Linked DNA regions of Homo sapiens: region 2 is linked to region 1. Evidence: fine-mapped expression QTL. Tissue or cell type: left ventricle. Region 1 holds a variant in brackets; the other region holds the start of a gene. All regions are shown on one strand. Distances are between the middles of the regions. Region 1 overlaps C12orf50 (chromosome 12 open reading frame 50). Region 2 holds the start of RLIG1 (RNA 5'-phosphate and 3'-OH ligase 1).

Evidence for each region. PIP is the estimated chance that this variant, and not a neighbour inherited with it, causes the effect. A credible set is the group of variants that fine-mapping cannot tell apart.
Region 2: it holds the start of RLIG1, and the variant in region 1 is the best candidate, but not a certain one, in a credible set for the expression of RLIG1 in left ventricle (GTEx, PIP 0.65).

The regions. Positions count from the first base shown.
Region 1 is chr12:88,004,935-88,007,852 of GRCh38, reverse strand. The region is part of intron 3 of C12orf50 (chromosome 12 open reading frame 50); the gene reads left to right. Among named protein-coding and RNA genes, the nearest start is that of C12orf50, 23 kb to the left of the region's middle. The variant C/T (reference allele first, on the strand shown) is at 1,329.
Region 2 is chr12:88,033,745-88,036,662 of GRCh38, reverse strand. RLIG1 (RNA 5'-phosphate and 3'-OH ligase 1) reads right to left here and starts at 1,127. Exons shown (of 7, transcript NM_001009894.3): 1 at 925-1,127. The coding sequence starts at 1,014. It overlaps LOC107984542 (a long non-coding RNA gene), which reads left to right and starts at 1,167. Exons shown (of 3, transcript XR_007063395.1): 1 at 1,167-1,249; 2 at 2,316-2,918.

The sequences.
Region 1 (2,918 bases):
TGGCATTTAATTTATTAAAACAACAATTACATTACAAATATTGATAATTATTGCATATCAAAGTACAATTATATAAGAAAATTACCTCTTCATTAGGTGAATTAATGATCAAAATTATTCTTATCTGTTTATAAAACAAAAAAAGGTATATATTGCTGCCATGGCTTGTTTGTATTTCTCCAAAATCCATGTTGAATATGAATAGGATTAAGGCCTTCATAAAAGAGGCTTCACACAGGGCTTGGCCCTTTTTGCCCTTTTGCCCTTCTGCCTTCTTCTGTGTGAGGACACAGCATTTATCCCCTCCAGAGGGCACAGTAACGAGGCACCATCTTGGAAGCAGGGAGTCCTCAATAGAGACCAAGCCTGCCAGTGCCTTGACCTTAGACTTCTCAACCTCCAGTACTGTGATAAATAAATTTCTGTTGTTTATAAATTACCCAGATATTTTGTTACAGCAGCACAAATGGACTAAGACACTTGCTAAAAACTAATATTCAGAACGAGCAGGTTGTTCTAATATTTGCTAAGTCAGTTACAATATAGTAAACATTTTATAAACTTAAATAAGATGAGGACTCACTTCAATTAGAAGATTTCACAATATTATAAAAGAGATCTTAACTATCTCAATTGGAAGATTTTATTTGAAAATTGTATCTATGGGTTTTTTTCTAAGATATTGTGAACAATTTGGCAAACTTGTAAATAATTCTACTTGCATTTAAAAAATTGTGATGACTAGATTACTTTCAGAATGATGTTGCGAAGAATTCCATGAACCTGTTCCCTAGTGAAATAACAATTGATTTCAATGGTTGATGAAAATTATATGTTAAAAATGTTTCCAAGTGTTAAGAAATTGTCCTAAGGGCATACAGCAAATGAAATCGTATTAATTCAATAAAATATACTAAAGCCAGTAAAAATGGCAAGTCAGTTGTATTGGAACCACCACCCACTCCTTTCACCACCTCTCTGTTTAGTGTGACAGAAGCTCTACTCTGAATGGATACAGCCAAGAACACAGAGCTCTTTCTACGTCCAGCTTCCAGTCAAGAACTATAGTACCTTTCTGGGGGGAGAAAGCTGCTAACATTTCTCATCCTCTCCAATTCCCAACTCCATGTTGCTAGAGCTCTATTTTTCAGGCCTGAATCTTGTTTTCATCCAGCCCCAAGCATAAAGCAAAAGTTCTATCCCACGTGCAGCAGGCTAGGAATAACAGGACCTCAATTACCTTTGCCTCAGTTGGAGCATGGATAGAGGTCCCATGCCAGGAGGCACAAGTTGTAAACACCAGAAATTACCACCCCTGCTTTGTGCCC[C/T]AATTTTAAAACAGGGCGTCACTCCAAAAGAATTAAGTGACTGTCCTTGCTCTTAGCATTAGCACTGAGATTTTGTGCAGGCAGAGAGTAGAAAACTCTGAAGCTCTCGGAAAGAGAACTGAATTTATTTGGAATAGAACATAGTGTGGGGAAGTTTAAGATTAGGGACGCTCTGAAAACAATGGTGATTGGGGATAAGCAATTAAGAGGAGGCTAGTAGCTCCATGAGAGCAGCAAACTAAACTGTAAACCAGCTAGAAGTTTACCAAAGACAACCCGGTAAAGACACAGTTAAAAAGAGTTCTTTTGGGCCAGGCGCGGTGGCTCACGCCTGTAATCCCAGCACTTTGGGAGGCCGATGTGGGCGGATCACGAGGTCAGGAGATCGAGACCATCCCAGCTAACACGGTGAAACCCTGTCTCTACTAAAAATACAAAAAATTAGCGGGGCGTGGTGGCGGGCGCCTGTAGTCCCAACTACTAGGGAGGCTGAGGCAGGAGAATGGCGTGAACCCGGGAGGCGGAGCTTGCAGTGAGCCGAGATTGCGCCACTGCACTCCAGCCTGGGCGACTGAGCAAGACTCCGTCTCAAAAAAAAAAAAAAAAAAAAAACCAAAAAAACAAAAAAACATAGTCCTTTGTCAATCTTTAGTCTACTACTTCTGATCTATTAACAGCTCCTGGCCTTCCATTTCTAGTTATCCCAGAAGGGGATACTGGAACACCTTGCAGGTAACTACTGGGCAGGCAATTTCGCCTGGTGTTTAAAAACATGGATTCTCGCTTGAACCGGGGAGGCGGAGCTTGCAGTGAGCCAAGATAGCGCCACTGCACTCCAGCCTGGGCGACAGAGCGAGACTCCGTCTCCAAAAAATAAATAAATAAATAAAATAAATAACATAAAATAAAAAGAGTTCTTTTGGGATTGGAACAAACTTGAAAGATTGGGCTCAAAGCTTAGCTCTGCAAAGGAGTCAATTTACTTGGGTTAAACTGTGGAGCAATTTATGCCCTAGTGCATTGATGAAAACAATGGGGCATTACACCAGCAATGAATGGAAGCTAACATCTCAGTGTGATACCAACAGAGGTGGACAGCTTAACAGAGAAACCAGGGAATGGAGCAAAATGAGCCCTGCTAAAGTCCGTGTTATCCCTGTTAACTGTGGACATGCCAAGGCTACATCCTCTGAGGAATGACAACAGAGGCTGCATATTGTGGGAGAAAATAAATTTTACTAAAATATTCCAACAAAGTCACTCAAAAATTAAAAAGCAAACAACAAGCTTCAGGTTTAGGATGAGAAGTCAATATTCAGAGTTGCTACAATGTATTATCACACATGTTGAGCTTTCAATAAAAATTATAAGACATGCAAAGAAACAGAAAATTATAATCCACATACAGAAATAAAGGAGGCAACAGAATGCTTATGAGAGGATTGTGATGTTCAACTATGCATTGATTTTTTTTTTAACTTTTATTTTGACTTCAGGGGTACAGGTTTGTTTGTGCAAGTTGGTTCTAAAGATAAATTGCATGTCCTGGGGTTTGATGTACATATTATTTCGTCACCCAGGTTATAAGCA
Region 2 (2,918 bases), 29 kb before region 1:
ATAAGGTAAAAAGCATCAAGGTGAATGGAAAACTGGCATGAAATGATTCCAGGGTTCATTCTTTAATTCAACAAATATTTATCCAGTGCCTACCACGTGCCAGGTCCTAGAAGCTGGGACTAAAGATAACAGGGCAATCTTTGCCTTAAACAAGTTTTAGTCCAGAAGACGAGAAAGCCAGTGCCAATGATGAAACTCAAGTGAGGTGGATTTCCAATGGACATGTTGGTTTTGTTTGAAATCAGCAAAGTTGGGAAGCACCCAACTAATCACTGGGGATTCTACTGATCAAAGACTACAACGTTTTATAGTACAATATGAAAAAATTACCCAAATATAGGTTACTCACTAGCATTTACCGAGGGCACACTATGGAAAACACGTTGCTGCAACAGAAAACCTTGAGAACACCAAAGTTAGAATAAATTAAGTAATTACTGGTAATATGAGGTGTGAACTTCAGTGACCTAATTAGGCTACTGTCAACACCGCCACTGGTTCGGACAGAACAGGTAAAGCAAGTCTTCTAATATCCACCCTTTCTTACTGCACTCTTGAAAAGTAGTAAAGCTTGGACTGTGGCAATTACCTGATTAGGGGGTTTCCCCAAAAGGTGCTGACCTGAAAAGGAAGGGACATGCTGTGGATGTGAGTTATCCATTTCCTTGCGAGGACAAGTTTGAATCTCCTGATAAGGAAAATTCTTTCGCAAATTCCCTCCCTCACAACTAAGAAAAGTACAAGAACCTGGAGCTCAGGGCGTACGGAACTCCCACCCCAGACCTCCCCAGGGAAACCTACAGAGGTTCCTGGCCTGCAGGGCAGTTCTAAAGCGCCCAGCCGCCCTCGCCGGGTTCGCACTGAGCCAGCGCCGCGGGGAGGAGCCCACGCGGGCCGCCAAGCCTGCCCGGCGCTCCTCCGTACCTGATGCTCCCTTTTGGAGGAAGGCTCCTCTTTCACCTCCGTCACAAACACACACGGCATTTTCCGCTGCACGGAGCCCAAGCGCTTCATGATGAGCCCAACAAGCAGTGCGAATGGAGGGCGTGCTTTCGAGCGGCGCCCGGTCCAGTCGCGGAGAAGCCCTGAAGCAGTCACCCGCACGGCTCAGGCCACGCACACTCCGCGCCCAGCCACCGCGGCTGCGCCCCAACTACCAAGCCCAGCGAGGGGCGGGAACGCCCGTCCAGAAGCGGCTTCCTGGCCGCGGCGCCTTCTGGGAGTTGTAGTGCAGAAGCTGAGGCGCCTGGTGGGTTCCCACGTGCGTCCTCCGCCCCCCACCCTCGGTTTTAATAACCGTGAAAAAAAAAAAAAAAAGATGCGTTTCCCGAACGTGGGTACTTAGCAATACCTAGTAACTAATGATTTTTTGGGAAATTAAATAAGATCAAATTATAAGCAATGAACATTTCAGATGTCGATTTAACACAGTTCCAATGGAAACTGCTTGCCTGTTATCTTTAGTTCGTGGGGGAAGCACTGTAGAAGTTTAGAAATGGCTAGAGACATCCCCAGATTCCCAAGCAGAATGAAAACTTCCTTTCCGGTAAGACTATCAGAAAACCCTATAATAAAACACCTGGGATCAAAAAAAGTTGTCGTTTGAACTACTCCTTATTGTGCAGCATAGCATGGTCGAAATGATTCTGATGTTCTTTTCGGAGTGAGTGCGAAATTTCAGCCTTAGACTAATCCAAAAGTACAGGAATACCTACAACCAGATTTCATTCTCAAGTTTTTCATAAGAATCTTGTTTAATTAAAGGTGAGCTCCAACAGCCCAAATGGCTTGAGTAATGGTAGTCAATCAACTGCGAGCTAAAAACAGCCTTAACTTACTGCTCAAAAGAATATTTTGAGGGTAAGTGATAAGATGGACAATGACTAAATAAAATAAATACTAAATATTTAGGAATAGTAGCCTTTCCATCTCATTGAATGTAGTAGTTCCTAGCCTGAAGTTGTAGGGGAATTTTGACTTTACTGCCATCCTTTATGGGCTTGGACTAGGCCCAGGTCTCATTTCTTTGTCTTATCTGCATGTACTCAACTGTCCAGCATGTTACTGACTTAGCCCTTGGAAAAATTAAACAACTATATCTCACTTAGAGGTATCTAACTAGTAAGGGGGTTCTCAAAGAATAAAACATCTTCCTTTAAAAAGTTCACAGTTATATTGAATACTGACAGTGAAAAAAAATAAAATTTAAAAAAAGTTCACAGTTTTTTGATTACTGGATTCAGAGGGGAGGGAGGAAGAAAGAGATTTGCCATTTCAAAGTGTTTACTTTCTTTTCTACTATCTTTTTCTCACAGGAAAACACAAAATGTTCTCCCACATCACACCCCGCCTGCATTTATCAAAAAAGAAAACACCTGATGCTGGCTGTGTGCTGTTGGAACCAGAAACTTTTTAGCATATTATAGTCGAGTGCCAGTGACTTCTTTGTTCTTTCAGAGGCATTCTAAAAAGCGGCGTGTTTCACGAATCTCAGAGACAACAACTTTCACAACTATCAACTGTCACCTCCCAAACTGCCACAGAACCTTTTAAGTCCAACATTCTGTCATTTGTGGGAAATACTCATCTTCTAAAACACACTCTACTTATTCTTTGAATAGTAGTTGCAAAGCTAGTCATCTCTCAGGAAGCACTTTCTATTTCCAAAACTTTGGTTTCATCAGTACCTGGAGCAAAGCTTCTGGCAGAAACACAAATCCTCATCAGGGGAGAGGCACAGGATCAACTCACGGTTATAAACTGGACTCCTGCTCTGACGGGTAGCAGCCATCAACTTTGCCCGATTCTCATAATTCTGAAGGGTCACCAAGGAGTTGCTACCAGCCACTGTACTTAAAGTGGTGTCACAGGATTACAAAATAGAAGAAAGTCTTTCTTCTCTGACTAATATGTTAGTG